Linked DNA regions of Homo sapiens. The main gene of each other region encodes a partner of the protein of the gene in region 2 in a complex. Each region holds a gene or a part of one and is shown on either strand. Other genes may lie near its edges. The genes, in order: OPRM1 and POMC. A codon is read from its position in the direction of its gene.

The links.
Region 1: the proteins of POMC (region 2) and OPRM1 are in contact, whole or in part, in a cryo-EM structure (PDB 8F7Q), measured with the Homo sapiens proteins. Residues at the interface, in NP_000930.1 of Homo sapiens: Tyr237, Gly238, Gly239, Phe240, Met241, Thr242, Ser243, Glu244, Lys245, Thr248, Pro249, Leu250, Val251, Leu253; in NP_000905.3 of Homo sapiens: Ser66, Met67, Ala70, Ile71, Met74, Gln126, Asn129, Tyr130, Leu131, Met132, Gly133, Trp135, Val145, Ile146, Asp149, Tyr150, Met153, Arg213, Ile217, Asp218, Cys219, Thr220, Glu231, Lys235, Val238, Ile298, Val302, Lys305, Trp320 (codon at 3,140), Ile324 (codon at 3,152).

What each region holds. Positions count from the first base shown.
Region 1 is NC_000006.12:154,088,127-154,103,225, forward strand, and holds part of OPRM1 (mu-type opioid receptor), read left to right. Parts: intron 1-1,635; exon of another isoform or gene 1,636-1,699; coding exon 1,700-2,052; intron 2,053-2,825; coding exon 2,826-3,346; coding exon of another isoform or gene 3,347-3,361; exon of another isoform or gene 3,362-3,682; coding exon of another isoform or gene 3,683-3,763; exon of another isoform or gene 3,764-3,831; intron 3,832-5,143; coding exon of another isoform or gene 5,144-5,320; exon of another isoform or gene 5,321-5,394; intron 5,395-6,083; exon of another isoform or gene 6,084-6,192; intron 6,193-15,099. UniProt on the Homo sapiens protein: Receptor for endogenous opioids such as beta-endorphin and endomorphin. Receptor for natural and synthetic opioids including morphine, heroin, DAMGO, fentanyl, etorphine, buprenorphin and methadone.
Region 2 is NC_000002.12:25,165,154-25,180,705, reverse strand, and holds the start of POMC (pro-opiomelanocortin preproprotein), read left to right. Parts: upstream 1-12,125; 5' UTR 12,126-12,208; intron 12,209-15,020; exon of another isoform or gene 15,021-15,070; intron 15,071-15,552.

The DNA.
Region 1 (15,099 bases), on a different chromosome or scaffold from region 2:
TCAATAACAAGGAATTAATTCTTGTTATATGCAACCACATAGATGAATCTCAAAATAATGACACTGAGTGAAAGAAGCAGCACAAAAAAAGAGTACATACTGAATGATTCTATTTGCATCTTCTAGGAAATGCAAACTAATCTATAAGAACAGAAAGCAAACCAAGATCAGCAATTGCCTGAGGAATAGTGAGGGTTGGATATGAGGACAGGGAGGGGCAAACAGGAAAGATTAAAGAGCTACACAAAGACACTTTTGGGAGCAATTGATGTCATTATCTTCATCAGAGGTTGACATTTTTTTCTGTAAAGTGCAAGATAGTAAATAACTTAGGCTTTGCATGTCATCTGATCTCTGTTGCAATTATTGAACTTTGCCATTGTAGCATCAAAACACTTATGGGTTTTTAAATAGGTGTATTTATTTATAAAACAGGCAACGGTCCAATTGGGTCTACACACCATAGTTTGCCAATCTCTGATCTTAATTATGGTGGTGGTTTCACAGGTGTACACACGTATCAAAGCTTATCAAATTGTATACTTTAATTATGCGTTATTTATTATAGGTCAATTCCACCTCAATAAAGCATTAAAAAATAAAAACAAAGCAAACACACTTGGGTTCCTCATCATGGATTGGATAGAGTCTAATCTTACCATGGCATACAAGTTCTTCATGTACTGGCCTCTCTTCTTCCCCAGTCAGATCCCTTGCCATTCCCTGGTAGAATGTGCTTGACACACACATCAGGCCATTCCAACTCTACATCTTTGTTGGGGTTCTCTCTGTTACCTCTCTGTCTAGAATGACCTGCTCCTACCAAGTGTCTAACTCAATCATCCTGCTTGTGCTTTGAGATTAAACTTGCACTTCCAGGATGCCTTCCACATCTTACTCCTACTATTCCCTTTGCCTTATGCTCTGTGAGATGCCTCATCTCTGTGCCCCATAATCGCCTGTGTGTTTGTATGTGCATGTGTTTGTGTACATACCTATAGACACTTGCACAATTATACTTCTTGATAATTTTAACTATATTTATATAGCTAAAATTTTCTCTTTTATATTTAGAATTACTATCCAGTCGCTGCCCCTACTATTTGACTGGAATCTCCCTCTTTCTATTAGACCTATCACAATGACTGACACATTACAAAAAAAAAAATTAAAACCCTCACTGCGTGTGGTGTCTCATGCCTGTAACACAAACACTTTGGGAGGCCGAGGAGGGAGGACTGCTTGAGCCCAAGAGTTCAAGACCACCCTAAGCAACATGTCAAGACCCTGTCCCTACAAAAGTTTTTTAAAATTAACAGGGTATGGTGGCATGCACCTGGGATCCCAGTTATTCAGGAGGTGAGGCAAGAGGATCTCTTGAGTCCAGGAGGTTAAAGCTGTAGTGAGCTCTGTTCATACCATTACACTCCAGCCTGGGTAACAGGGCAAGATCCTATCCAAAAAAAAAAAAAAAGGAAGAAACTCAACAAAGCAGCATCGTTGCTATTATTGCAGCTATTTAGCCAATAGGTACATCATTGACATCATTGTAAATAGCCAAGCTGATACTGGAAAACAATTCTATATCTAATCTCAAAAAAGCTTTCTACTAATTCATGCAAATTTATTATTGGAAGCTTACCTATATTTTACACTAGTGTCTTTTACTGATTCTCACTCTTCTTCCTTTATCTCCTAGATACACCAAGATGAAGACTGCCACCAACATCTACATTTTCAACCTTGCTCTGGCAGATGCCTTAGCCACCAGTACCCTGCCCTTCCAGAGTGTGAATTACCTAATGGGAACATGGCCATTTGGAACCATCCTTTGCAAGATAGTGATCTCCATAGATTACTATAACATGTTCACCAGCATATTCACCCTCTGCACCATGAGTGTTGATCGATACATTGCAGTCTGCCACCCTGTCAAGGCCTTAGATTTCCGTACTCCCCGAAATGCCAAAATTATCAATGTCTGCAACTGGATCCTCTCTTCAGCCATTGGTCTTCCTGTAATGTTCATGGCTACAACAAAATACAGGCAAGGTGAGTGATGTTACCAGCCTGAGGGAAGGAGGGTTCACAGCCTGATATGTTGGTGATGTCATAAGCAAAGCAGTATTTATGGAGTGCCCCATTGTCTTAGTCACATTGTAATTTTAATTATTCTTCCTAGCAAAAAAAGCCTTTGAATACTTAAAAATAGGAATTTTCCTCATAATTTTAGGCCTATTAAATCCTTTAAAGAGAATGTAATCTATTTATTTCTGATTTCTCTGTATTTACTTCATAAAAATGGTGTGTAAATTAGTACATAGCTCTCCCAAGAGTAATTGGAGCTTAAACCCAAAGAGTATTACACTGAGGCTTGTTTAAAATTATCAAGTGGCTGACTACATGGCAAATGTATCTTTCTACACCTAATATCAGAATATTGAACAATCCATCAAAAAATGAAGTGAAAACATCCATTACCTGGAGCCGCCTAGAGACTTTGGACAATTATTACATTTTTTATATCAATATAGACCTCATGGAGGATCTAGCTCATGTTGAGAGGTTCATTTTTGTTCCCTGAACGAAAGCTTAATGTGATCGAAGTGGACTGCAAAATGGGAAATTTAGAAAAAAACAAAAAACATTAGAAGTAAAACTTTCTTTGAAAAGTAACAAACAACTGAGTTTCTTCCACAATTTCTTTATAGCCTTAAGTTAGCTCTGGTCAAGGCTAAAAATGAATGAGCAAAATGGCAGTATTAACACCTTATGACATAATTAAATGTTGCTGCTAATTTTTCCTTTAAATTCCTTTCTTCTAGGTTCCATAGATTGTACACTAACATTCTCTCATCCAACCTGGTACTGGGAAAACCTGCTGAAGATCTGTGTTTTCATCTTCGCCTTCATTATGCCAGTGCTCATCATTACCGTGTGCTATGGACTGATGATCTTGCGCCTCAAGAGTGTCCGCATGCTCTCTGGCTCCAAAGAAAAGGACAGGAATCTTCGAAGGATCACCAGGATGGTGCTGGTGGTGGTGGCTGTGTTCATCGTCTGCTGGACTCCCATTCACATTTACGTCATCATTAAAGCCTTGGTTACAATCCCAGAAACTACGTTCCAGACTGTTTCTTGGCACTTCTGCATTGCTCTAGGTTACACAAACAGCTGCCTCAACCCAGTCCTTTATGCATTTCTGGATGAAAACTTCAAACGATGCTTCAGAGAGTTCTGTATCCCAACCTCTTCCAACATTGAGCAACAAAACTCCACTCGAATTCGTCAGAACACTAGAGACCACCCCTCCACGGCCAATACAGTGGATAGAACTAATCATCAGGTACGCAGTCTCTAGAATTAGGTATATCTACTGGGGATGACATAAAAATTATAAGGCTTTGTGCTAAACTAGGAGTTTAATCCATTATAGAGGATGAGAATGGAGGGAAGAGGGGAAGCAAATTGTGGTTCTAGTGTTAGAGAAGAGGTTTGTTATATAAACTGTGTTCTTTATATTTGACTGTACATATTCATTTAGGTATAAAGATACACCAATGAGAAATCCATGAAACTATTCAAAATAACTATTTTTATGGCCTTTACTTCTATGCAAAATTTATGACTTTAGCACATTATAGAAATAATTCTGATCTAGAATCCTTTTCATTTTCCCCAGAATTATTATATAATTCATAGATGTTGCTGCAATACCCCTCTTATTTCTCAAAAGCCAGTCTTGCTCTGGTTCTGTGATTAAAGAGAGAGGGTGAGTGCCTTGCCCACTGTGGTCATGGATGCAAGATATTCACAGAAAATTAGCATCATGGAAAAGGAGAAAAGATTAAAAAATGACCATCCCTAACTTTTCTTAAGCTATTGGTTTGCTACCTGAACTCTAGCACAAATATCAAACATATTAGACTGAATAATATATTATTAATATGTGAATATTAATCTAATAAATTTTATTAGATTAAACAATTTTTAACAGACCTCATGCTTGTTGGAGATAATAGGGTGAATAGCGACTAGCTTTTGGAAGGTGTATTTCTGTGCCCAGACCTACACAGAAAATTCAAGACTTATACACACTATTATAATCATATGGGAAATCAACAAGGAGGAAAGAGAAAAGGCTGTCTCCAAGTTAGTATTACTTGATTAAGCCACTGGTTGGCTAAATTTGACCTCTGATCTATAAAATCAATCAAATACATGGCTTAATTTTTAATATTAATCTAAGTAAGTAAATTTTAAATAATGATGCCAGCATCCAAAAATCACAGCCTGTATAATTTTTTTAACAGTGAATTCAAATTCAAACTTCCTATGAAGTAAAGGCTGGAGTCAGAATCTTGGCTAAAGTTCCTAGAGTCAGGCGTCAGGACTGTGAGGACAGATGGCTCCGGAGAAATGAATAGCAAGTCAAATGATTGAGGAGCTAGGGGAGGCCTTTGCCACCACAGGGTGCAGTGGCTTCCTCCTGCTGTCTCTTGACCACACCCTGTCTCTCACTGTCCCCTCTTTACCCCACTCTGCCATCCAGCCCAGCCCAGGCTCAACCTTTCTAATTGACCAGAGGACTAATGTAATATGGCCCAGATACATCCGTCATGGGCGACATTAATCCTCATACCCCTGGTATTCAGTGATGCTCAAGGGAACACAGGAACTCACACCCCCTAGAGAGCATGAGGTAATGATGGCAGACCCACTTCCAGACAAAGGGAAATTAACTTATTATGTCTCAGTTCTAATTCCATTTCAGAAATGAATGCCAGAAAGAAATGGTTTTGACTCTGCTTCTTTTCTCTACGTTTTTTTCCACATCAAGACTGCTAAACCTACTCCTTTTACTAGGAGCTACTTTTAAAAAGTAATTGCAAAAACAGCGATTACTTTTGCACCAACCTAATGCTAAGCAGCCCTCCTATTCAGTGGCTGCTAGAATCTTGTAAGTAACTTTAAAAGGGCAGGGATTTAAATAGATTTTCACCAACCTGGGGATAACATGTTAAAGATTGCAACTTAAAATGCCTAGTCCTCAGCTAAGGATAAAATATTTTGCTTTGAAGTAAAATATTTCCATTGGAGCAAAATAATGGCCATTATAAAGTACTGACTCTTTCTCCTTTAGTGCCTACCTATACCTTCCCTGTCTTGCTGGGCTCTAGAGCAAGGCTGCTTGGTTGTGTACCCTGGACCACTGCAAGGACCTCTTGTCAGATATGACCTCCCAGCTATCCTTCACTCGTCCTGCCTTCGTGGAAATACTGCTCCCAGCCCGTCTGGTGGAGCATTTCTCCTGAGTTAAGCATGATTATTCTTCAGTTGCCCGACACTGCCCTTGACTCCCTTCCAAATTCGGCATTTTCACATCAGTATGGCTATTGTACAGCCAGATAGAAGAGAAAAGAAGCTAATTGGAGGAGTTCTGTTCCAAGTAACTAAAAGGTTTGCTTTAAAAATACATCCAATTAGGCCTTATCTTCATCGCTGCCTCTATGAAGCAGTATCAGTGTAAGATAACAGCAGAAACACATTAGCCCTCGAATTGGTTGCTGTCCCAAAATGCCCAACTGAGAGAACTGGACACAGAAGAGAGGCTGCCAGGAAAAGAGGGAAAGATGCTCTGACATATTTAAAAATTAAGATAAATCAAAGCTCCCTTTGGCTAATCTCCACTGATGTGTCATCATTAGAATTAAAGCAGTTACAACCAGACAACTGGAACAATACATAAGCTGCTAGTGATAGTTTCAATAATATATCAACATAATAAAATGACTTGAAGGAGAAATTGGAGACTTGATGGCTGTGTCTATAGGACATGTTAAGTTAGTTGTACAAATCCAGAATGTGATAAACAGGTGTTTGGTCGTTGTTTCACATCATGACCCATCATGTTGGAAAACAAAGCTAATAGGATTTGCATTTAACTTTTCAACTACTTGTTTGAAGTTTATATTGGTTGTGGATGTTTATGTTCTGCCTTATGTATTTGTACTTTCTTTGAGGAATATATTATACTCTATATGTCACATTTCAAGCACATTAGTCAACTTCATATTCTGCAGATCAGAGATCCAATATCAAACCTTCCCAGGGTGTCTGTATTCTGACAACTGTCCACTGAGGCAATTTCCATACAGCGCAAAGTGGAGTGGCGATTTGGCAGTTATCAAGGTAATTTGATAAGCCAATGAGAAAATTCTGTGCCCAAAATAAGCTTAGAGTCATACTTACACAGTTAAGAGCTGCTCAGTCAGCTTTTGTTACATTACAAATCATTCCAAAATGTAGTGGCTAGAAGCAACCATTTATTTAGTTTACAATTCTGTAGAACAGCCATTGGAGCTGGGCTTGGCTGGACCGTTCTTCCAGTATTGGCTGGGCTTGCTCGGAGGGCAGCTGCCCGATGGGCGGGTGGTCAGCTAGCTGATCTACATGGCCTCAGCAAGAATGACTAGCTCCACATGGACTCTTACCGTCTAGCATGTTACCCCAGCCTTGTTCTCATGGTGGTCACAGATTCCAAGAGAAAGAAAGAGAGAGAGAAAAGAGGAAAGCGTCTTTTGGCATAGAGTAGGAATTGGCATACGGTCAACTCTGTGGTTTTATAGGTCAAATAAAGTCATCCTGCCAACCTAGATTCAAAGGGTGAGAAATTAGACTCCATCTCTTGCTGATAGGATCTGCAGTCACATTGCAAAAGGATAGGTATATAGGGAGCGAATAATTATGACCACTTCTGCTAACAATCCGTAGTAAGGACATGCTGCATGAGACAGGGAAGCCATTACTTCCTGAGGGCAGGAGCCGTGTCTGTCTTGCTCTCCCAAGCCAGAGTCTAGCACATTAAAAAGAAAGTACTTCTGGCCAGGCACAGTAGCTCATGCCTGTAATCCCAGCACTTTGGGAGGCCAAGGCTAGTGGATCACCTGGGGTCAGGAGTTCGAGACCAGCCTGGTCAACATGGTGAAACCCCGTCTCTACTAAAAATACAAAATTAGCCAGGTGTGGTGGCACATACCTGTAATTCCAGCTATTTGGGAGGCTGAGACAGGAGAATCGCTTGAACCTGGGAGGCAGAGGTTGCAGTGAGCCCAGGTCGTGCCATTGCACTCCAGCCTGGGCAACAAGAACGAAACTCCATCTCAAAAGAAAGAAAGAAAAGAAAGAAAGTACTTCCAAAACATCCAAAGCATTGGACAGATTCATGTCTGTTGAATAAATGATGAGAGGGCTGAGGATATTTCAGGAGATGTGGCAGGCATGACCCCTTCATCATGCAACTGACGAACAACCTAAATGACTATGTACCCTAACCCTCTTACCGTCAGTAATGGGAAAATATTCAAAATAGGCCTTCTTCCTTTTCTCCTCCTCAGCCTTTGCTACTCTGATCCAATGTTATTTATACTTTTCAAAAAATCAGTTACATTCATGGTTGTTTTCTAATTTTATTTCTAACGCGTACTTTTGATAAGGAGACCAAGAGATTGATTCAGTGCCCTAAAGAGGTCTTTCCCTAGCTGAGTATGAAAAAACAAAAAAGATGGTCTCGTGTTTTTTTTGTGCATGCCTGGGCTCAGCCTACTGCTCCAGCTGTAGCCTCTGTGCCTGATTTATGTTCAGCTTGCTGTCTTTATGACTTTTAGATCTTTATTAGGTAGACTAAGGCATAGGCATTCATTTTCCATCTGTTCTCAGTGCAATTTAATTTCTCCACACACGCCCTACACTGCTGTTGTCCTATTGAACTCCACTTTGCTTTCAAACCCTTCCCTTGTTTATTTCGATCACTTCAGGTTCAACTCAAACCTGAACTGTTGGCCACTGCTAACCTGCCTTGCCCACTTGGTTTCCACCCGCATCATATTATCTAATGCATTTTCTTTTTGTTGTTATTGTTGTTGTTTGTTTGTTTTTTGATTTTTAGTTTGAAATGGAATTACTCTGTCGCCCAGGCTGGAGTGCAGTGGTGCGATCTCAGCTCACTGCAACCTCTTCCTCCTGGTTCAAACGATTCTCCTGCCTCAGCCTCCCCAGTAGCTGGGATTACAGGCATGCGCCACCACACCCAGCTAATTTTTGTATTATTTTTAGTGGAGATGGGGTTTCACCTTGTTGGTCAGGCTGGCCTCAAACTCTTGACCCCAAGTGATCCGCCCACCTCAGCCTCCCAAAGTGCTGAGATTCCAGACGTGAGCCCCTGTGTCTGGCCTCTAACGCATTTTATATCTTGACACGTAGGTGATTATTGAAAACGTTTAGCATTATATGGGGAAAAAAGCAACACTGTTACATCAGTTGAATTATCACTGAAACGGTAGAGTTTGGTGCAAAAGTAATTGCGGGTTTTGCCATTACTTTCAATGGCAAAAACCGCAATTATTTTTGCACCAGGCTAGTACTAACAACCACTATAATAATAATGCTGCCTTACATTTATATGGCAATGTACAGATTCAAAAGTGCTTTTATGGGCATTATCACATCTGCTTCCTATAACAACTCTGATGGGTAAATGTAAGAAAATGCTCAGGGAAGTTAAATCATTATATAAGATCAAACAGCCAGGAAGAGGTAGAATCCAGACAAGCACCCAGGGCTTCGAATATTACTCCACAGCTTTTCTCTGCTTTCCTACACAATGCTACTTTGCACTCAATTATTATCACATGGTCTCAGCCAGATTCTCAACATTTACTATGAGCTCCAGAAAATGTAAGTTCTTAAGAACTGCTCTAATAAATTATAGTTTGTTATGTGAGGGTCCAAGAATCTGCCTTTTAAATAAAACAATAAACTGAAATCTCTTATTTAAACTGTACCTTCATCTCCAAAGTAGCACATTTACTGTTTTGTCTAACCTGTCTAGCCATTTCAGTCAAGCTGATTGACATGAATGTTTTCACCAAATGAGTTATGTGTTTTGTGAAATAATGTAATTATCCTTGGAAAAAGCCTTAATATTCTGACATATCTACCCGTGGGTCTTACAGGAAAAAGCAATATAATAGTGATAAAGTGAACGTCGTGGCATGTCCTGCTAATTCCTTTCCATTAATATGGCAAGTCCAGTCCTAAACCCTCTAATTACTATTATTAAAGCACTTTCTTGACATTTTAATCAAAATAGCGGGTCAAGAAGTTAGGAGATGCTCTGTATTTGGTTTAACTGTGAACTATATTATCCCCAGCTAAACTAAAAGCAGAAGCCTACTTTTAAAATAAAATACATCACTCTCAAAAGTTGATCTCAGTTTTTTTTACAAGACATCTGTGGAGAGTTAATTTGGGAAAGTAATTGTTTCAATTCAATGGGAAAAAAAACTCAAATGAGAATAGCTCACAAAATTACAGCAGTGGACAACATTAATGCTTATTTTGTGAATGAAATCAAAATGGCTATTCTTTCAGTTCTACAGTTTAAAAAGAAAATGGTTCCGTGTGTGTGTGTGTGTGTGTGTGCGTGTGATATAGGCATGTCTCTTTTTGCATGTATGGAATTAGAGTAAATGTAGGTTTAAAATTAATATTTCATGCATAGCAGAAGAAATTAGTATGTGTTTCTATAAATTATTGTGATATGTGAGAGAAAATGTTGTTTAGTTAAAAATGTGTTTATCCCTAGAAAAATTTGGCTTTTAGACTATTCATAATAACATATATTGACCATTTTGTGTCTGGGATGGGATATCTTATTTAATCATATTAGATATGGATTGTAACCTCTACTCTATAGTTGAGGAAACTAATGTTTAAGGAAGTAACTTGCCCAAGGTCATAGTTAAAATGTAGTGGCTGAGGGTTGGGTGCAGTGGCTCACGCCTGTTATCCTAGTACTTTGGGAGGCCAAGGCAGGAGGATTGTTTGAGGCCAGGTGTTCGAGACCAACCTGGCCAACATAGCAAGACCTTGTCTCTACTAAATTTATAAAATTTTAAAAATTAGAAAAAAAATTTTAATTAGTGGCTAACTATTGACTCCAGTTAAATTCCATCTTATAACCCAGGCTTTTAATCAATGTGCCCTGATATATTCCAGTCTATTTTTCACTCTTCTCAGCATGGTCTCAGACCTGAGAAATTTAGGGAAATTTAGTTTTAAAGATTGGATTAACTAAAGTGGTGCAGTATCTTCTTTTCCTGACTGTTCTAACTAATGTAACTAACTGAAAAACAGCAACATATTTTTCCTTTCAAAACTAACAAAATGAGATGTCATCTTATTTGGTTAAACTTAAGTGGTGAATTGCTATTTTACAGCCATTTTTTGTAAAAATACTCTCACTGAGATTTAGTGTTTTGGAACATGTCAATCTTTATTTTCTACCTCATGTAGTTTTGGATGCTAAATATGAAAAGGTGCATATTTTTCTCTTTTAACTTTCAACAACACCACGTTTATTTTTACTTCTACCTCTATGATTTTGAAATGCAGTTTCACAGTATTTATTTTTGCTTTTGCATTTTCTCCTTCACACTAAAGGAAAGGATATTTGAATGTATATGACCTATCACAAACCAGCTGTTAACTTTTGGATGTCATTCTGATCACTATATCTTTTGGCAGGTTGCAAATAAATATTTGTAAATTGCTAAAATTTGACAAAAATGGCAAAATTAATTTGGAGAGTACATTATGAGAAATAGAAATTTCTGTGGGGTGTAGAACAAAATTTGTCTTATTGATAATTTTCCTTTTCTAATTATTATTTCCCTGGAAATCAAGAATCCAAAGCCACAATTTCATCAGTCCTCTCCCTTCACACTCAGAATTTGTTTCTTTATAGAGTAGAGTTTCTGAGTTTCACGTGAATAGGAACTTTTCATGATGAAGAAAAAAAATTAGAGCCAGACCAGGTGCAGTGGCTCTCATCTGTAATCTCAGCATTTTGGGAGGCCGAGGCCAGTGAATTGCTTGAGCCCAGGAGTTCAAGACCAGCCTGGGCAACCTGACGAAAGTCGATCTCTGCAAAAAACAAACAAACAAAAAAAGCCAGGCGCGGTGGCATGCACCTGTAGGTCTAGCTACTCAGGAGGCTAAGGTGGGAGAATTGATTGAACCTGGGAAGTTGAGGCTGCAATGAGCAGTGATTGTGCCACCGCACTCTAGGCTGGGCAACTGAATGAGAGTCTGTCGAAAGGAAGGAAGGAAGGAAGGAAGAAAGGAAGGAAGGAAGGAAGGAAGGGAGGGAGGAAGAGAGCGAGAGAGAGAGAGAGAGAGAAAGAAAGAGAAAGAAAGAGAAAGAAAGAAAGTAAAGAAAGAAAGAGAGAAAGAGAAAGAAAGAGGGAGGGAGGAAGAAAGAAAGAGAGAAAGAAAGAAAGAAAAAGAAAGAAAGAAAGAAGGAAAGAAAAAGAAAGAGGAAGGAAAGAATGAGAGAAAGAGGAAAGAGAGAGAGGGAGAGAGGAAGGGAGGGAGGAAGGAAACCATATCGTCTATGACTTCTACTCTACTGCAATAAAATCTCTTAAATAAAGATCATACACATATATACACACATATATATACACACATGTATATACATATATACACACATATATATGATGTGGGTAGGGGAGGCTAGAAACAAGATTCATTTCAAATGTTAAATTGTAATTGTAGTTTTTAAAAACATGGAGAGTTTTCATAATAAACATGAAGAGTTTCATAAAAACATGAGTTTTCATAATATATATCAAATATATATCATATCAGGATATATCATAATATATTATATATTATCATATGATATATATCATAACATATTATATATTATATTATGATATATATCATAACATGTATTATCATATTATGATATATATCATAACATATATATTATCATATTACGATATATATCATAACATATTATATATTATCATATTATGATATATATCATAACATATTATATATTATCATATGATATATATCATATGATATATATCATGATATATATCATATTATATATTATCATATTATGATATATATATTATATATTATCATATTATGACATATAATATATATTATCATATTATGACGTATCATAATATATATTATCATATTATGACATATCATAATATATATTATCATATTATGACATATCGTAATATATATTATCATATTATGACATATATCATAATATATATTATCATATTATGACATATATCATAATATATATCAAAAAGTCACAGAGCTCATGCAAGCCCAGTCATCCCCATTGCCAGTGGTGTGTGCTAAAGGAATACACCCATAAATATTAACCCTAACTGGTGTGAGATAAGTATGAATTTAAGGTAGTGCTTGTTGCTTTACTGTGTATGAATCAAAGGAAATTAACCATCTTGTCTTTCTATAACATCTGAACATATTAGAAACACATGCAAAGAAATAAATAGCCTGATAAATTGGCTCCATATCATTATCAGATACCAAATAAATATAGGCTGAAAATTTCATCACAATTTGAATATTGGTCCTCTCAGTTTAAGAATGAATATATAGAAAAATAATGTGAGCAATTTGTCTGTATAAAGTGAAGTATTTCTTGGGAAAGAAGGAAAAAGAGCTAATGTATAGAGCACATTTTTTGTGTAAAATCAGCTACCATCTACTATTCTGTTTTCTATACAGACACCAGAAATCCCAAGAATACTAGATATCTACAAAATCTAGCAATCCCTACCTAGGTTCTTTCTACTTTTGTCACATTATCCAATATTTATAAAGGTTAAAAAATATATATTTAGGAGATTTTATAAATATAAATATATATGTATATATAATCCAGGATTCGTAATATATATTTACATATTATATATATAAATATATATACACACATATATAAAATTCAAGTTTTCTATACCTAAGTCCCTTGAAGTGTAAAAAGTAAATGATTTATTATGATGAAATGGATTCCTTTAAGATGTAATAGAAAAGCAAATCCTATGAAAGATGATATTAAGAAATAAGAATAACTTAATCAACAAATAGCAAAATATTTTTTAAAACGTTGACAACCAGAAAATTCAGTGAAAGGTGGATGTGGGATGAGATATGACTACTGTACATTTGACAATACAATCATCTATTTAACTCATTTCATAATTTGTCGACTTAAGAAGAATATCTCACTCTTACTCTTCTTCATTCTTCTCTATTATATTAGCTAAGGTGTTCTTATATTCAAAATTCCTGAAGTATCATTAAATATGGGCTCATTCAAATTCAAACCATCAACTTTTAAAAACGCTCTCCTTGAGCTACTCTTTGGAAATAGAAGGGAAATGGGAGGAACAATTCTCTCATAGAATTTTTAAATGCTTCAGCTAAGGCTTGCAGTGTGACTTGCATATACTATAATAACTGAATTTCTTTCTGATTGCTTCAGAAGTTCAATATGACAAATAGACTTTCAAATGGCTATAGTATAGCAAATATCAACGTCTAAATCTCAATAATGTAACTGGATATGTCAAGCAGATGCAAAATGTTCACAGTTCTTCGAACACTGGAACTGAAAAAGAACACTGCAGACTGTCTTATCCAAACATCCTTTTCCTATAAATGGAGAAATTGAAGGCCAGAAATGTATTTTTTTATTGTGTACCTTTTTTCTTACTAAATGTAAAAGATGATAGTGAAATCTTTCCAAACACCTAGTTTTCAAATAGAGTTTAAGAAAATTTGTGTAAATAAAAAGTCAGATAATTGTATTTTTACATAAACATATGTAAATTTAATTTTAAAATTTTCATCAGGTTAAGGGGAAGCATTACAATTAGATAAGAACAGCAGATGCAAGATAAAATCCTAAAAAATTATTTATTTTATTTTTTTGGAGACAGGATTTAGCTCTGCTGTCCAAGCTGGAGTGCCGTGGCACCAGCTCAGCTCCCTGCAGCCTCTACTTCCCAGGCTCCAGTGATCCTCCTGCCTCAGCCTCCTGAGTAGCTAAAACTATGGGCACACACCATCACACCATGCTAATTTTTGTACTTTTTGTAGAGACAGGGTTTTGCCGTGTTGCGAGCCTGGTCTTAAACTCCTGGGCTGAAGTGATCCACCTGCCTTGCCCTCCCAAAATCCTAGGATAGCCAAAATCCTAAAAATGTAAATGGCCCCAGATCATACTACTGATGGGCTGAATGTTCTTGGGCAAGTTTCTAACAATCTCTGCTTGCATTTCCTCATCTGTAAGAAAGGTAATAACTGTAGTAACTACCACTTAGCTTTGATGTAAGCATGATGTATGATTATCCATCCAAAGTGTCAGGCAACTGGCTAATATTATTACTCCAAGCCATCCGGTGAGGCTTTACTATTCTCATCTTCTTCTTTTCCTTTTCCCTCAAAACTGAATTTCATCTCTTGTAAATAGCATTTAAAAGGAATGAAATAATGTACCAAAAGAGATCATAAAGTGGACTAACCCAAGCCTTCTCAACCTTGGCGCTAGTGACATTGTGGGCACTGTAAGATGTTCAGCAGCATCCTTTGTCTCAACACACTAAATGCCAGTAGCACCCACCCATCTCCCACTGTGATGCCAAAATGCCTCCAGATATTGCCAAATGTCTCCTGGAGTGGAGGCAGGCAGCAGAAATCAGTCAAGAACCATTGATCTAACCTGTTTAATTTTGTTCAATAGCTGGAGAAACATTAAGGTCCAATTAGTTGTGATGTTTTTAAAGCAATGCTTGAGAAAATTGGAACCAAACCCCAGGTGTCCTGACTTTAGTCTGATCCTCCTCTGAAAATTTCTCTAAGGAAAGCTTTCTTCTACACCACTAACCAGTTGCAAAAAAAAAAAAAAAAAACACTCCATACTCATGGAAGACAAGAGAAAGGCACAATTCTTCAACCCTTATATTACTTCAAGCTTCTTTTAGAAAAAAAATGACCTTCAGCTTGAGACACTATTAAGAAAAAAATTAAAGGCCAATAAAGATGAAGATATTGTTAGAGAACCCCAGGAGGCTCTGAATGAGGTCAAATCTCATGGCGATATTAAAACATTAAGAGGAGTTGTGGACAAACTACAATGAAACACAAATCATAATCTCTGAAGCAAATAAGAATGGAAGGACTCCTGGAAAATGAGGGTAA
Region 2 (15,552 bases):
TATTTCATTTCTTTTTCTTTTTTTTTGTTTGTTTGTTTTTTTGTTTTTTTTTTTGAGACGGAGTTTTATTCTTGTTGCCCAGGCTGGAGTGCGATGGCATGATCTTGGCTCACTGCAACCTCTGCCTCCTGGGTTCAAGCGAGTCTCCTGCCTCAGCCTCCCAAGTAGCTGGGATTACAGGCATGCACCAACACGCCCGGCTAATTTTGTATTTTTAGTAGAGATGGGGTTTCTCCATGTTGGTCCGGCTGGTCTCAAACTCCCGACCTCAGGTGATCCACCCACCTCAGCCTCCCAAGGTGCTGGGATTACAGATGTGAGCCACCACACCCCGCCAGTATTTCATTTTTTTTTTTGTTGTTCTCAAATAATATTCCATTTTATGGATATATCACTTTTTATTTATCCATTCATCAGTAGGTAGACATTTGGGTTGCTACCACTTTTTGGCTCTTATGAATAATGCATCTGTGAGCATACAAATTTTATCAAAATGTGTGGAAAAATGTTTGAGTATATACCTAGGAAGGGAATTCCTGGGTCATATGGTAACTCTATGTTTAACATTTTGAGGAACTGCCAAACTCTTTGACAAAGTGGCATTATTTTACATTCCCATCAGCAGCAAAATACCCTTTCAAGAGTAAATAAATAAGTAGTGAGACCTTATTTATTATCTTGAAATGAAATTCATTGATAATATAACCTTCTCATGTTCATAATACATAGAAAAATAACTTCAACCTAAAGGTTGAACGATAATATAAAGGATAAATTAAAAGAACATAATTTATACATGTTTTTGTTTTTTGAGACAGAGTCTCACTCACTGTGTCACCCAGGCTGGAGTGCAGAGGCACAATCTTGGCTCACTGCAACTTCCGCCTCCCGGGTTCAAGAGATTCTCCTGCCTCAGCCTCCTGAGCAGCTGGGACTACAGGCACACACCACCACACTCTGCTAATTTTTTGTATTTTTAGTAGAGATGAGGTTTTGCCATGTTGGACAGGCTGGTCTCAAACTCCTGACCTCAAGCGATCCACCCACCTTGGCATCCCAAAGTTTTGGGATTATAGGTGTGAGCCACCATGCCCAGCGAATACATGTTTTTTGAAATGAGATGTTGAAGTCAGAGACTGGCCTTCTCAGGCGGATTAGACCTGGTCTGGAAGCATTTCCCCTAAGGGGTCTGCCAAAGGCTCCAGCCCCAGCCCCTCAATGGCACCAAGAACAGCTGCCTAGGGGGATGCTGGGAAAGGAATCACTTTCAACTGGACATAAAGGCTTTGGACAGCGTGTTAAAAACAAACCAAACTACCTTTCAAACCCATTTCAGGAGTCGTTGCACCCTTCCCATCACACACACACACACATGCACACACACATACACGTGCATGCACATGCACAGACACACACAGAGTCATGGGCTCTTTGAGCTGCTGCATAGCAGGTCACTGTGCACCAGCTCTGCCCAGCCTGGTGTCCCTCTCCTGGGGCAATGGGACTGAGGGCACAGTGGGGGCTCTCCGGGCCGCAGGTGGGCTGCCTGGATTCGCTGTCCTGGCTGCTCCATTCCTTTGAGCAGCAGGCATGGAAATGGAAGATGGGTACCTAACGGGGGCGGGGGCTGGAGAGGGAGACTGAGCTGAGTGCCTGTAAAAAGGCCACTTCAAGCCCCCTCCACGCAGCCATTGTTGGGTCTGGAGGAAGGAGGACCGCTCGGAAGCTTCTGAATGCCGCCCTGTGATGCACTCACTAATGGATGTGCATTAGTGGCGTCCTTCCTGGCCACCACGTCACTCTCCCTACCTCAACTGCTGGCTGGAGAACTCCGCATTCTTCTGGAAAAGTAGCAGTCATGCTCGAGCCCCTAACAAAGGCCTGTCCCCCACAAAAGGACCATTATGACCACCGCTGAGTCAGAATGGTGGCCGCTGGCACCTGAGCTCTGTCTGGAAAGAGCGGCAGCAGGGACGTCATCTAGCAGAGCCTGGTGTGTCTGTTATGTCCACAACATCTTCAGCAAAGACACTACTTCCAGGAAGTCTACTTGGATTGCAGAGGCGCAAGCCTTCATTGTGAAAAAAGGGCTTGGGATAAGGGAGTGGTTCTAAAAGAATACATGTGGCTCCACATGGCAATATACCCAGGTGTAATAAGCTCAGGGTAAGAGAGAACCTGCCATTGCTGATGCAGGACTGTGCACACAAACTTACAGGCTCTCTACTGGGGTGTCCCATGGAACTGGCTCTGTGTGAGGAGCGGCTGCAGAGGGCTCTTTGATCAGGGCTGGCTTTCCACAGGCCACTTGGACCCCATGGGTGGCTGCCTGCAGCAGGAGTGCTGGTAATTAGTGGCCCCATTAGTTTCCTCTGGGATTCAGAGTGAACAGAGCAGAGAACTGGCCTGCCCATGTGTGCAGACTGGAGCAGATTCTCAGAGAGAAACAGGACACGAGAAAGGCCCAAGAGACAGAAGGACAGAGCTTACCTCCTCAGCCCAGAGGACTCAGCTGTGCCCATTAGGGGCCACGTTCTGTAAGACTATTGTTTGTTTGTTTTTTAATCACAGAGCTTGACTCTAGATCTGAGCCTAGAATCATAGAATGACAGGCCTGAAACGGACCACATCCTCCCCGCCCCCATTGTTCAAATGAGGGGGCTGAGGCCTGGAGGTGGGGTGGGGGTGGGGGGAGTGACTGACCCAGGTCCCTGTGTCTGCTGGCCACAGAGCTGGGGCTAGAACCCAGGTCACCTCACCCCCTCCCACTGCTTCTTCCTCCACTCTATTTTTTTTTTTTTCTGAGGCAGGGTTTGGCTCTGTTGCCCAGGCTGAAGTGCAGTGGCATGATCATGGCTCACTGCAGCCTCCACCTCCCAGGTTCAAGTGATCCTCCCACCTCAGCCTCCTAAGGAGCTGGGACTACAGGCGTGTGCCACCATGCCCGGCTAATTTTTGTATGTGTGTGTATATACGTGTATATATATATATATATTTGTAGAAATGGGGTTCCACCATATTACCTAGGCCCTTCCTCCACTCTTGACTCTGCTTTGGACCCTGAGGGTGCTGACAACCTGCTCTAGGGAGGGGCATGGACTCTGGCCCTCCCCACTGTGCTCTGCGGCACCCAGACCATGCAGACCTTGGCCCAGGCTGCTGCACTAATGCGCGCATTAGTGGATAAAAGCAGTCTCAAGGGTCTCTTCACGAGGTCCCTTTGGCTGGAATAAAGCAAATTAAAACCCCATTCAAAGGTCAATTGAAATCTCTTTCATTCCAGTTCTCTGCACAAATTGATTCCTCTTTGCCCTTGAGGTCAAACCGAAGGCTGGTGAAGTAGCCCAGCTGCAGTGCTGCATGAGAGAAGCTCAATGAAAAGGCTGAGACTGGGGAGGGCGTGTTGCAGGGGTGAAGCGGGGCAGTGGGATCCGCCTGAATTGTAGGGCCATCTGGGGCACCAGTAACCCTCTCCTCTGCAGTGCTTCAGGCTTCAGGCCCTTTTCTGGAGGCAGCTCCCTGTCTGCCCTGCAAACCACATCAGGCTCCCCTCAGAGGGATGCTTAATTAGGGTTTCTATTGACAATTGTGGGTGCCAAGAGAAAATTTCCTTCCTTCACTCTGCCCTCTGAAGTTTTGTTGAAAATGAACTGCTAATAGACAGATTAATAGGGGAACAAGACATACAAATTAATTTCATGTGTATAGCATAGCAGAATGGTGGGAGAATGATTACCCAGTAACTCAATGAGGTCCAGATGCCTGCAGATATTTCTTGATAGGGGAAGGGAAAATGAGGGGCATAGGAGTAAATGATTTTCTGGGAAAGTGAATGCGCCCGAGGAACAATGGCCTGGGACAAAGTTCTTCTCTGTTCTTTGGGTAGGTGGTGTGAAGGTGAGAAGCAGAAAGTCATTGTGAACGCAGCCTGTCTTATTATGCAGGTAACCCCCCTAGGCTATCTCTTGGAGTTGCCCTCAGAAAAATGCAAGAAAAGTCTGTCTGGAGGCGGTGATGATCCGTCTCTTCTCAGGTGGTTAATCTTTCTTTCCTGGTTATTTGATGAGATTCCTATGAAGGGAGGCTTCAGGCAATTGTATTTCTTTTAGAAAGAAGTTTCCTTAGTCAGATATGGAAATGCCAAAGACAGTACCTTCTGGTGTTTTGGAAAAAATCAGAGAGACAGGGAGTGAGGGGAAGGTCAGGGCGAGATTTTGAAGGTTCTTCAAAGGAACTGAAGCTGCTTCTTTAGTTCCATATTTTGGGGTATAATTTTCTGAGCCCCAGTGCAATTTTAGCGGTAGTTAGGATTTCTTGAAAGTGCTCACGATTCTTGAATGCCCACATAAAGGGGAAGATACTGGGCTATTTCTCATTCAGACACAATGAAGAGGAGGCACTTCCCTGTTTCAGGTTCATGTGTCCTACAGAGGGAGTACGGAGATGTTACTGGAAAGGAATCCCAATCCGGACCCCAAAAGAGGGTCCTTGGATTTCACGCAAAAAAGAATTCTGGGCAAGTCCATAGATTAAAGTGAAAGCAAGTTTATTTATTAGGAAAGTAAAGGAATGAAAGAATGGCTACTCCATAGGCAGAGCGACCTGGAGGGCTGCTGGTTAACTTTTTTTTTTTTTTTCTGAGACAGAGTCTTACTCTGTTGCCCAGGCTGGAGTGCAGTGGCGTGATCTCAGCTCACTGCAACCTCCGTCTCCCAGGCTCAAGCAATTCTCTACCTCAGCCTCCCAAGTAGCTGGGATTACAGGCGTCTGCCACCACGCCCGGCTAATTTTTGTATTTTTAGTAGAGACAGAGTTTCACCATCTTGGACAGGCTGGTCTTGAACTCCTGACCTCGTGATCCACCTGCCACGACCTCCCAAAGTGCTGGGATTACAGGCTTGAGCCACCACGCCTGGCCTGGTTAACTATTTTTATGGTTATTTCTTGATGGTATGCTAAACAAGGGGTGGATTATTTATGTTTCCCCTTTTAGACCATATAGGGTGACTTCCTGACATTGCCATGGCATCTGTAAACTGTCATGGCGCTGGTGGGAGTGTAGCAGTGAGGACCAGAGGTCACTCTCTCAGTGGCCATCTTTGTTTTGGTGGGTTTTGGCCGGCTTCTTTACTGCAAACTGTTTTATCAGCAAGGTCTTTATAACCTGTATCTTGTGCCGACCTCCTATCTCATCCAATGACTTAGAATGCCTAACCATCTGGGAATGCAGCCCAGTAGGTCTCAGCCTCATTTTACCCAGTCCCTATTCAAGATGGAGTTGCTCTGGTTCAAACGCCTCTGACAAAGAGGGTTTTGGAGAATCATGAGTTTCTGCAAACTGAGGGTTAAGAGGGAGAGGGTCTCCCTTCCTCATTCATCCCCTCCTACCCTTGCTGTACAAATATTTTTCAAGCACCAACTCTCTACCAGGCACTGATTATGGGAGCTGTGCCCTTAGAGGCAACCGGCACCAGCTGAGCAGCCCAAGGGCCCCTCTAGACCAAACAACAGCAGGAATGAAGAGGCCCTGGCTGAGCCTAAGGAGTTCCGAGAAGGGACAATTGTTATTCCATGAGACAGGGATGGCAGCTGCCCCCAGCTTGTCCATGGAGACTATGGAGAGAGAATGAAGAAGGGCGTGCCAAGGTGGAGCTGGGGCTCCTCGTTCAGACCCTTAAGGCATGAATTGGTGCTTATTCCAGCAAAGTCCCCCACAGACATGAGGCAGCTTCATCCCTAAGTCTTCTCTTCTCCCAGGGTAATGTCCCCCATTGCCAGTCCCAATGCCTGGAGGCTGACAACGAGGCCACCCTCCTTGTACCTCCTTATCCCCTGCCCCATGTTGGGCTCTGCCACCCTGTCCTTGTTTCTGTCCTCTCAGTCATCAGCCTCCCCTGCACCTGCCCTTGTAACGCACTCACACCCTGGTGACATCTCTTTTCCAATTAAAACCTCAAAGGTGAAAAGCTGAGATGATGAGAGCAGCCCCAGCCCTACGTCTACAGCCACCTGGCACGCCCGCAGCCAGGTGCAGGTGCATCGCCCCGGCCCCAGGAGTCCTCACAAGCAGGGTCTCCCAACAAACCCATCAGCTACCCTGTCCAAAAGACCCTGTGTCTGCTCCTGTCTTACCTCCTTCCCTCCTTTCTTCCCTCCTTCCTTCTTTCATTTATTCCTTCCCTCCTTTCTTCCTTCCCTCCCTCCTTCCTTCTTGTCTTCCTTCCTTCTTTCCTTCCCTCCTCCCTTCTTTTATGTCTTCCTTCCCTCCCTTCCTTGCTTCTTCCTCCCTCTCTTTCTCCCTCCTTCCAACCTTGCCTTCTTTCCTTCCCTCCCTCCTTCTACTTCCTTCCTCCCTCTATCCCTCTCTCCCTCTCTCCCTTCCTTCCTTCCTTCCTTCCTTCCTTCCTTCCTTCCTTCCTTCCTCTTCCCTCCTCCCTTCTCACCAACACTCCCATAATATTAAAGTTAAGGGCTAGCAGTTGTACAGGACTAACTAGGGACCAGGCCCTGCTCTAAGATCTTTACATGAATTGCCTCCTTTAATCCATATGACAGATAGTGGTCGAGCTGGAGTATACAAACAAAAAGAAGCTTTTGAGCCCCTGAAATACCATAGGCAGGAAGCAAGCAAGAAAATTATTCAGGTGCAAATCTTGGCTATTATGGAAAAGGAAAGCTAACACAGAGAATAGACCAAGAGCCCAGAGGATGGAACCAAGAGCCCAGAGGATGGAACCAAGAGCTAAGGAGATTCATTCCGGGCAGTGGAACTGCCTTCTGAAGGAACTGGTCACGTGGTCACACGTGCCAGGCCAGATTTCAGAATTTCCTTTTTTCTCTTTTCTCTATTTCTTTCTTTCTTTCCTTTTTTTTTTTTTTTTGACAGAGGCTTGCTCTGTTGCCCAAGCTGGAGTGCAATGGCCTCACTGCAACCTCCGCCTCCCAGGCTTAAGCGATTCTCCTGCCTCAGCCTCCCAAATTGCTGGGATTACAGGTGCAAGCCACCATGTCTGGCTAATTTTTGTATTTTTAGTAGAGATGGGGTTTCACCATGTTGATCAGGCTGGTCTCGAACTCCTGACCTTGCGATCTGCCCGCCTTGGCCTCCCAAAGTGCTGGGATTACAGGCATGAGCCACCACGCCTGGCCCTTTCTGCCATCTTTATCCTTGATCCAACATTACCCTCCACCCACAATCACCATTCAGTTCATAGAGTTTTGTTTTGTTTTGTTTTGTTTTGAAACAGAGTCTCGCTCTTGTTGCCCAGGCTGGAGTGCAGTGGCATGATCTTGGCTCACTGTAACCTCTGACTTCCGGATTCAAGCAATTCTCCTGCCTCAGCTTCCTGAGTAGCTAGGACTACAGACATGCGCCACCATGCCTGGCTAATCTTTGTACTTTTAGTAGAGACGGGATTTCACCATGTTGGCCACAGTGGTCTGGAACTCCTGACCTCAGGTGATCCGCCTGCCTCGGCCTCCCAAAGTGCTGGGATTACAGGCGTGAGCCACTGTGCCCGGCTGAGTTGTGCTGTTTTTATGCCAGGATCAAATGGAGAAATGCACAAAAATAGTGAGGAGATTTAAAAAGCATACTTTTCTCAGTAACTAATAGAATAAGACGACAAATAGCAAGGATATAGGTAGAGAAAGGATATAGAATATTTGAGAATATACAGTCACAGAATACAGTGCAGTGAGACACTTCTTTTGGAGTGCACAGGAAGCCCTAATCAAAATGAGCCCTATGTTTATCTGTTAAGCAAGCCTCAAAAAATTTCGAAGGTCTGAAATCAAACAGAGCATATTCTCTGACTACAAGGGAATTAAGCAAAAAATTAGTTTAAAAACATGACTGGAAAATCCCCAAGGTTTAGAAGTTTTTCTTTTTTTTCTAAGTTGGTAATATGAATTGGAAGGGTTAGAGGTTAAGCAGAATATATTTGAATAACCTATAGGTCAAAGAAGACATCTCAATGAAAATAAAAAGATATTTTGAACAAATGGTAATTGAAATATGACATATCAAAAGTTGTGGGATGCATATAAAGCTGTACTTAGAAAGAAAATATAGCCATAAATACATATGTAAAAAAAGAATAAAGGAGCTGGGCACAGTGGCATGCATCTATAGTCCCAGCTACTAGAGAGACTGAAGTGGGAGGATCACTGGAGCCCAAGAGTTGAAGATGAGTCAAGGCAATATTAAAAAAAAAAAAAAAAAAAAGGAAAAAAATGGTTCAATATCAATTATCTAAGTAAAAGTATTTATTTAATGTCCAACTCATGAGTATAGGAAAAGAATAGCTAATTAAACCCAAAGATGTAGAAGGCACGATATAATAAGAGTAAAAATTTCAGAAATATAAAAAAGTATACATATAGTACAGAAAATTAACAGAACCAAAATGGATTATTAAAAAGACTAATAAAATGGATAACACCCTAAGAAAACTAATCAAGAGGCCAGGCACAGTGGCTCACGCCTGTAATCCCAGCACTTTGGGAGGCTGAGGCCGGCAGATCACCTGAGGTCAGGAGTTTGAGACCAGCCTGGCCAATATGGAGAAACCTCATCTCTACTAAAAATACAAAAAATAAGCCAGATGTGGTGGCACATCCCTGTAATCCCAGCTACTTGGGAGGCTGAGGCAGGAGAATTGCTTGAACCCGGGAGGCGGAGGTTGCAGTAAGCCGAGATCATGCCATTGCACTCCAGCCTGGGCAATAAGAGTGAAAGTCTGTCTCAAAAAGAAAAAAGAAAATGAATCAAGAAAAAAGAGAACACAAATAACCAATATCAGAGATGAAAAGGGCCAAAACCACAGATCCCAGATGCTTAAAATATATAATAAACAATTTTAAGCCAATAAATTAAAGAATTTAGATGAAATAGACAAATTCCTAGAAATACATATCTGACTCAAACTGACACATGAAGAAGTAGACAATTGAAATAGTGCCACTTAAGTAATTGAATTTGTAATGGTTTAAAACATTTTTCCTTCTTTTTTCCAGCTCCAGCTGAAAGGATTGATTCTGTAATTAAAAACTTCAATGAACAAACAATCTTAAAGATTTAGATGGCATCACTGGTGAATCATCCCAAACATTTAAGGACGAGATAACACCATTATACGCAAATTATTCTACTTAATTATAAAAAGGGGGAGGGAAGATGGATTTCCAACTTGTTTTATGAGAACAGCATAATTTTTTGATACTCAAATTAGACAAGAATTCCACAAGAAAGGAAAATTACAGGCCCATCTCATGAACATCAATGCAAATGTCTTAAATAAAATATTAGCAAATTGAGTCCAGTGCTTTCTGTATAAGGATAATACATCATAATCAAATTGGGTTTAATCTAAGAAGCCATGGTAGGTTTAACACCAAAAAATCAACAATGCAATAATTCACCACATTACTAGAATAAAGGTGAAAAATTATGTCATGTCAGACAATCAAAGGCACCTGTTCTAGGCTTTCAAAGAGGAGCTAGTGGTACAAGGATGCAAGGGCAGTGGTGACTCCTTTCTAGTGGCATTAGCTGAAGTGAGAATGGCAGCGTCCCATCCTGGGGACAGAAGTGACGTCTATGTCAGACGCCTGTGGTCTTGACATGCCCCTTGTGGCCCCTTGTGGTCTGTTTTTTTTTTCTCCACTGGATGTGATTTTGGCCATGGTTCCAGCCACACTGTGTCCCTGCCCATTTTTAGATCCTGGTCCCCCAACCTGCCCAGTGATTTTTTTTTTTTTTTAGATGGAGTCTTGCTGTGTCGCCAGGCTGGAGTGCAGTGGCGCGATCTCGGCTCACCGCAACCTCCGCCTCCCAGGTTCAAGCGATTCTCCTGCCTCAGCCACCCGAGTAGCTGGGACTACAGGTGTGCGCCACCACGCCCGGCTAATTTTTGTATTTTTAGTAGAGACGGGGTTTCGCCATCTTGGCCAGGAATGTCTCCATCTCTTGACCTCGTGATCTGCCCAACTCAGCCTCCCAGAGTGCTGGGATTACAGGCGTGAGCCACTGTGCCCCGCCTACCCAGTGATTCTAAATGCAGTTCAATGGCCTTTCAGTTCATGGAGGCCAAAGCAGGTTCTGCTGCATTAAATTAAGAAACTGGGCTGGGTGTGGTGGCTAACACCTGTAATCCCAGCACTTCAGGATACTGATGTGGATTACTTGAGCCCAGGAGCTTGAGACCAGCCTAGGCAACATAGTGAAACCCTGTCTCTACCAAAAACAAAAACAAAAACAAAACAAAAAACCAAAACCCAAAATTAGCTGGGCATGGTGGCATGCATCTGTGGTTCCAGGTACTCAGGAGGCTGAAGCATGAGGATCACTTGAGCCCAGGAGGTGGAGGCTGCAGTGAGCAGTGTTCACACTGCTGCATTCCAGCCTGGGCAACAGAGTGAGACCCTAATTCAAAAACAAACAAACAGAATGAGAGAGAGAGAGAAGAAAAGAAAGAAGGAACCCAGTTAAAGAAGTTGGGTCCATTTGGATTTTTCCTGGTTTGTTTTATCTGCTGCCACCAGCAGCCTCCTGAAGTTACAAAAATAACACAAAGTAAAATAAGGCAAAACCACCATCTGCTTGAAAGAGTTTACAAACCTGATGGTGGTCGTGGGGTGGATGGAAGATTAAAAAAATGGGGACAGAAGTGAATTAGTGCAAGCCACTTGCACTGACAAGATGGGGATGGACTTCTGTGGAAGGCAGAGGAGGTCATGCCTCATGCCCCTGGTAGGAAAAGTGGCCAAAGAGGGCTTCAGAGAACAGGGGCTGATGGATGGGCTACATCTTGATGTGAGTCAAGCTCCTGGATGGCTGGAGAGAGGAAGGATGTTCTAGTTGGGGGAACAGCTTGGACAATGGAGACCCAAGAAAGCCATGTTCTAGCAGTGTGAATGTTGTGGATGCTGAAGTGCCAGGATGCAAGGTGGAGAACTGGGAAATGGCCCTGGAAAGGGGCCAAAGCCGGGTGATGAAGCACCTTGTCTACTGTGACGGAGCTTGGATCTCTCTTGTGGTCCAAAGGGAAAGGATTGCTGAATGTAAAGCCAATGTCACCAGAAAAGCTGAATCCACAAGAGAGTCCTGGAGTCCAAAAGAGCATCTCATGGGGAATCAGGAAAGTTCTGGCATTTGGCAGATTAAGCAAGTGTCTTGATTTGAAGTCCAGTTTAGTCCCAATACTCCCTCCCACACCCACCACATCGCACAATTTGGTTTTGTTTATTTACTCCAGGTTAAGGTAGAGTCTCTTAGCTTGGTTTGAGTGCTGTACTCTTCTCTCTGGTCTGATATTTGGAACTAAAGCCAAGCCAGAACTCCAGGGCCAAGGGGGATGTTGAAAATTGTCTGAGTCCCCAGACCACCCTGCCAGCTCATGGCAAAGGGAGGGATCAGAGGCCACAGGGAAAGCACTTCAGCTGCTCTTCACAGCATCACCCTCTCCCCATTTAATGGTTTAGGTTAACAGGACTTTTTCCTTGAGGCTTGGGACACGGAAGGGAGCCTCCCCTAAACCAGGCCCTTGGAGAGCAGGCCCCAGGGGAGCAGTGCAACTCACCTTCACACCCACAAGACGGCTCCTGACTTCTGCTCCCTCCTCCCCTCCCCAAAGTGGAACAGAGAGAATATGATTCCCCACGACTTCCACATCACAGTTTCCAAACAATGGGGAAATCGGAGGCCTCCCCGTGTGCAGACGGTGATATTTACCGCCAAATGCGAACCAGGCAGATGCCAGCCCCAGCACGCACGCAGGTAACTTCACCCTCGCCTCAACGACCTCAGAGGCTGCCCGGCCTGCCCCACACGGGGGTGCTAAGCCTCCCGCCCGTTCTAAGCGGAGACCCAACGCCATCCATAATTAAGTTCTTCCTGAGGGCGAGCGGCCAGGTGCGCCTTCGGCAGGACAGTGCTAATTCCAGCCCCTTTCCAGCGCGTCTCCCCGCGCTCGTCCCCCGTCTGGAAGCCCCCCTCCCACGCCCCGCGGCCCCCCTTCCCCTGGCCCGGGGAGCTGCTCCTTGTGCTGCCGGGAAGGTCAAAGTCCCGCGCCCACCAGGAGAGCTCGGCAAGTATATAAGGACAGAGGAGCGCGGGACCAAGCGGCGGCGAAGGAGGGGAAGAAGAGCCGCGACCGAGAGAGGCCGCCGAGCGTCCCCGCCCTCAGAGAGCAGCCTCCCGAGACAGGTAAGGGCGCAGCGTGGGGGACCCGTGCTCTTTCCCCGGGATCCCCTGTCCCCGTCCTCGCGATGCAGTCGGCCGGCTCCGGCTCCGAAGGCGGACCTGGGCGCCTCTGGCTCTCCGCGGTCCCGAGTTCTCGACAAACTTTCTGCGCCGACTGCGGCATGAGAAGCCGCCAGTAGCTGAGCTGGAGGGCCCACGTCCGGCCCCTGGGCGGACGGCCGCGAAGCTGCAGGCGCTGTCTCCAGGGAGCCGGCGGCCTCCTCTCCCCCAGGGGCTCGCGGCGGTCCGGAGGCTCCGAGAGCTTGCTAGGAGGTCTTGGGACAACCCGGTCTTTTTTTTTTTTTTTGAGACGGAGTTTCGCTCTTGTTGCCCATGCTGGAGAGCAAAGGGGTGATCTCTGCTCACCGCAACCTTCGCCTCCCGGGTTCAAGCGATTCTCCTGCTTCAGCCTCCCGAGTAGCTGGGATTACAGGCATGCGCCACCACGCCCGGCTAATTTTTGTATTTTTAGTAGAGACGGAGTTTCTCCATGTTGGTCAGGCTGGTCTCAAACTCCCGACAACAGGTGATCCGCCCGCCTTGGCCCCCCAAAGTTCTGGCATTACAGGCGCGAGCCACCGCCCCCGGCCAGCCCGGTCTTTTAGTATCTCTTGCTCCCAGTTTCCAGGATAGGTGTCACATCTTGAAAGTCAAATTCCATACACGCTATCGCAAATTAATGTTGGAAACGGGGCAGCAGAGAAAAGGATAAAAGTCATAATGAACGCCCTGCCTTCCGGATTTTTTCGGATTCAGACCCCTGAATCCTTGTTTCCTTGCCCACCTTAGCGCACCCGAGGTGGCCGCGCTATGATAATTACATGATAACTGGGTCAATTACAATGCAGAATAGTTGGGTCTCTTCTCTCCAAGACCTAGCTGGGGTTAAAAACAGGTGGCCGGGGCGGGAGCTGTCCTAGATCCTGAAACGCACTGTCTAGTTTCGGATGCCCTCAACAGAACCGGGGTGGACGGTTTATGGCGCAGATCCTGGGTTGAGGGCACGGGCAGCCATTTGGAATGATCAAGGCTCAGGTAAGGGGCGTTTCCAGCGAAGGAGAGACAGTCCACTTGGCATTTGGATTCCCCAAATTCTTCATGTTTAAATGGGGCAGGGAGGGTTCTTACAGAATGGCTGGAAGGAGCCAAGGAAAATAAAAGTGTGTGTGGATTTTTTTTGTGTGTGTGTCAGTTTATAAACTCTGCACAGATTATGGCCACTTTAATGACTTACTGTTCCTTTGATGCTTTTGTTATAGGACTCGATGCATGTATGTCATGGTGTAAGGACAAAACTCGGCCCCTGTGCTCCTCTAATCTTTACAAAAGGTCATGGCCAGCGTGCAGTTTTACAGTAACAAGCAAAATGATTTGTTGAGCTCATAGAGAGCCCCTCACACCTATGAAGTTCTAATAAGTGTAGTTCTACTATAAAGTTAATCTCAGGATGAGCAAATTTCAAGTTTCTATTTTTCCAGAGCTTTCCATTTTTGGATTATAATACTTTCCCTACTTAAAAAAGCACAACATTTGATATTTCCCCAATAATTTGTTGCTTTAAAAATGACACAAAAGGTACTATTTGTTCATTGTAGAGAACTGAAAATACACATAAGCAAATACACATACACATAAGCAAAATATACAATACAAACACAAGACCATCTTTCAGGGAAGAATCTGAAGTTTTAGCAATAGCAGCCATCTAACCAGTTTAGCAACAGAATATAAGCTCTGAGAGGGTGGGAGTGAATATGTTACCACATTGTACAACACAGCACATAGGGCATAAGGAGGGGAAATGCTCTCTGGGGCTTTCCAGGAAGGCCTGAAGTCATTGCTTCTAGCAAATGGAAATCACTCCAGAGTAGTTATCTTTGACAAGAATTGAAATATAATTGAGGGAACTATCAGACCTGTAAGATTTTGTTTTTTCCTTTACTAATATGTTACTTTACATTTGCATTTGGTGACATACGTAACTACCATTTTTCTGTGACTGTAACATCTGGGCATTTTTCAGAGCTAAATGTGCTATGGTCAACTTGGAGCTTTAATCTAATTGCCTGGTCCACCAAGTTCTGGCTGTGTACTTGAATAGATCACTGGCAGGGTACAATGGGAACAGCCTGTCCCTTGGAGCCAGGAGAGGACACCAAGGTTGACCAAAGCTCGTTCAGTTGCCCCTTTAGCCGAAGCGCACCTGGGCCAGTCACTGGCTGCCAGTGCCATCTAATGGCTGCTCTGAAAATGCTCAGCCTTGCCCGGCAACCCTTCAGAAGCTAGCACCGTGCAGGCCCAGCGCCTGGGGAATAGGGCGAGGGTGGGGTAGAGAGAAGGAAGTGGCCTCCTGAAGTAGAAATCAGCGCTTCAGAGGACTTTCACTTCCAAAGCCTCCCCTATATAAAAAAGATTTGGCCCACGCCTCCCCAAATGAGAGATTTATTTTAGGCAAACTTATTTTAAAATGCCAGCGTTCATTAGGAGTGACAAGACACTTAGTCATCCACGCTTTAATGTGAATTACTTTTCTCATCTAATTACATTTCTTTCTAGCAGCTGGCTGAGAAGATCTTCTGAAATCCAAAATGATTGTAGGGTTGGCGGTGAGCTGATCTCCGGCCTCGAGGTGGCTTCAGGGGGCCCACCTGGTTAAGGGAAATTTGGCAGTGCGAGGGTAGTGCTGGAGAGAGGGGTGGGTACAGGGGGCTAGGGGCACCATGGATGCCCCCTCCTTACTGTCCCCTGGTGTCTTGACCTCAGCTTCTGCCCACAGGCACTTGCTGGATTCTCCAAAAGTATCTGCAGTGGCTGTTCCACCAGGAGGTAATTCCCTTCTGGTCTCTTTCCCCTCCACATCTGCATCCTCTTCAAATCCTGCCATTTCAGACCACATTTGAGAGCTCTAGAGAACAAGACATCTGACACGTGACGTGTCCAGAAGATGAGCCAGATTTCAAAGAACTGAGATCTGCTTTAAAAACGAAGCTCTCCAAAGTTACTGGAGTCTGGGTAATAGTGATCACCAGAGTAATTTGTGTGCAGGACATCAAATCAGGCTGCTCGAAATGCTGCCTAAATTGGCCAGTGGTTTTATTTGCTTTTCTGTCAACCTAATATTCATAGGAAATAGAGTTTCAGAGGAATGATAGGATCCTGGTGGAATAAAAAGGGAAAAGACCATCTTGAGCAGGAGTTTCAGGGTCCTCCGTTTTTCCCAAGTTACTTTCACTCCTGAGATCTTGCATGTTAGAACTACAGCTTAATGTAGTGAAATAGGAAAGTTCTCTGTTAGGAGCTTAGCCTTA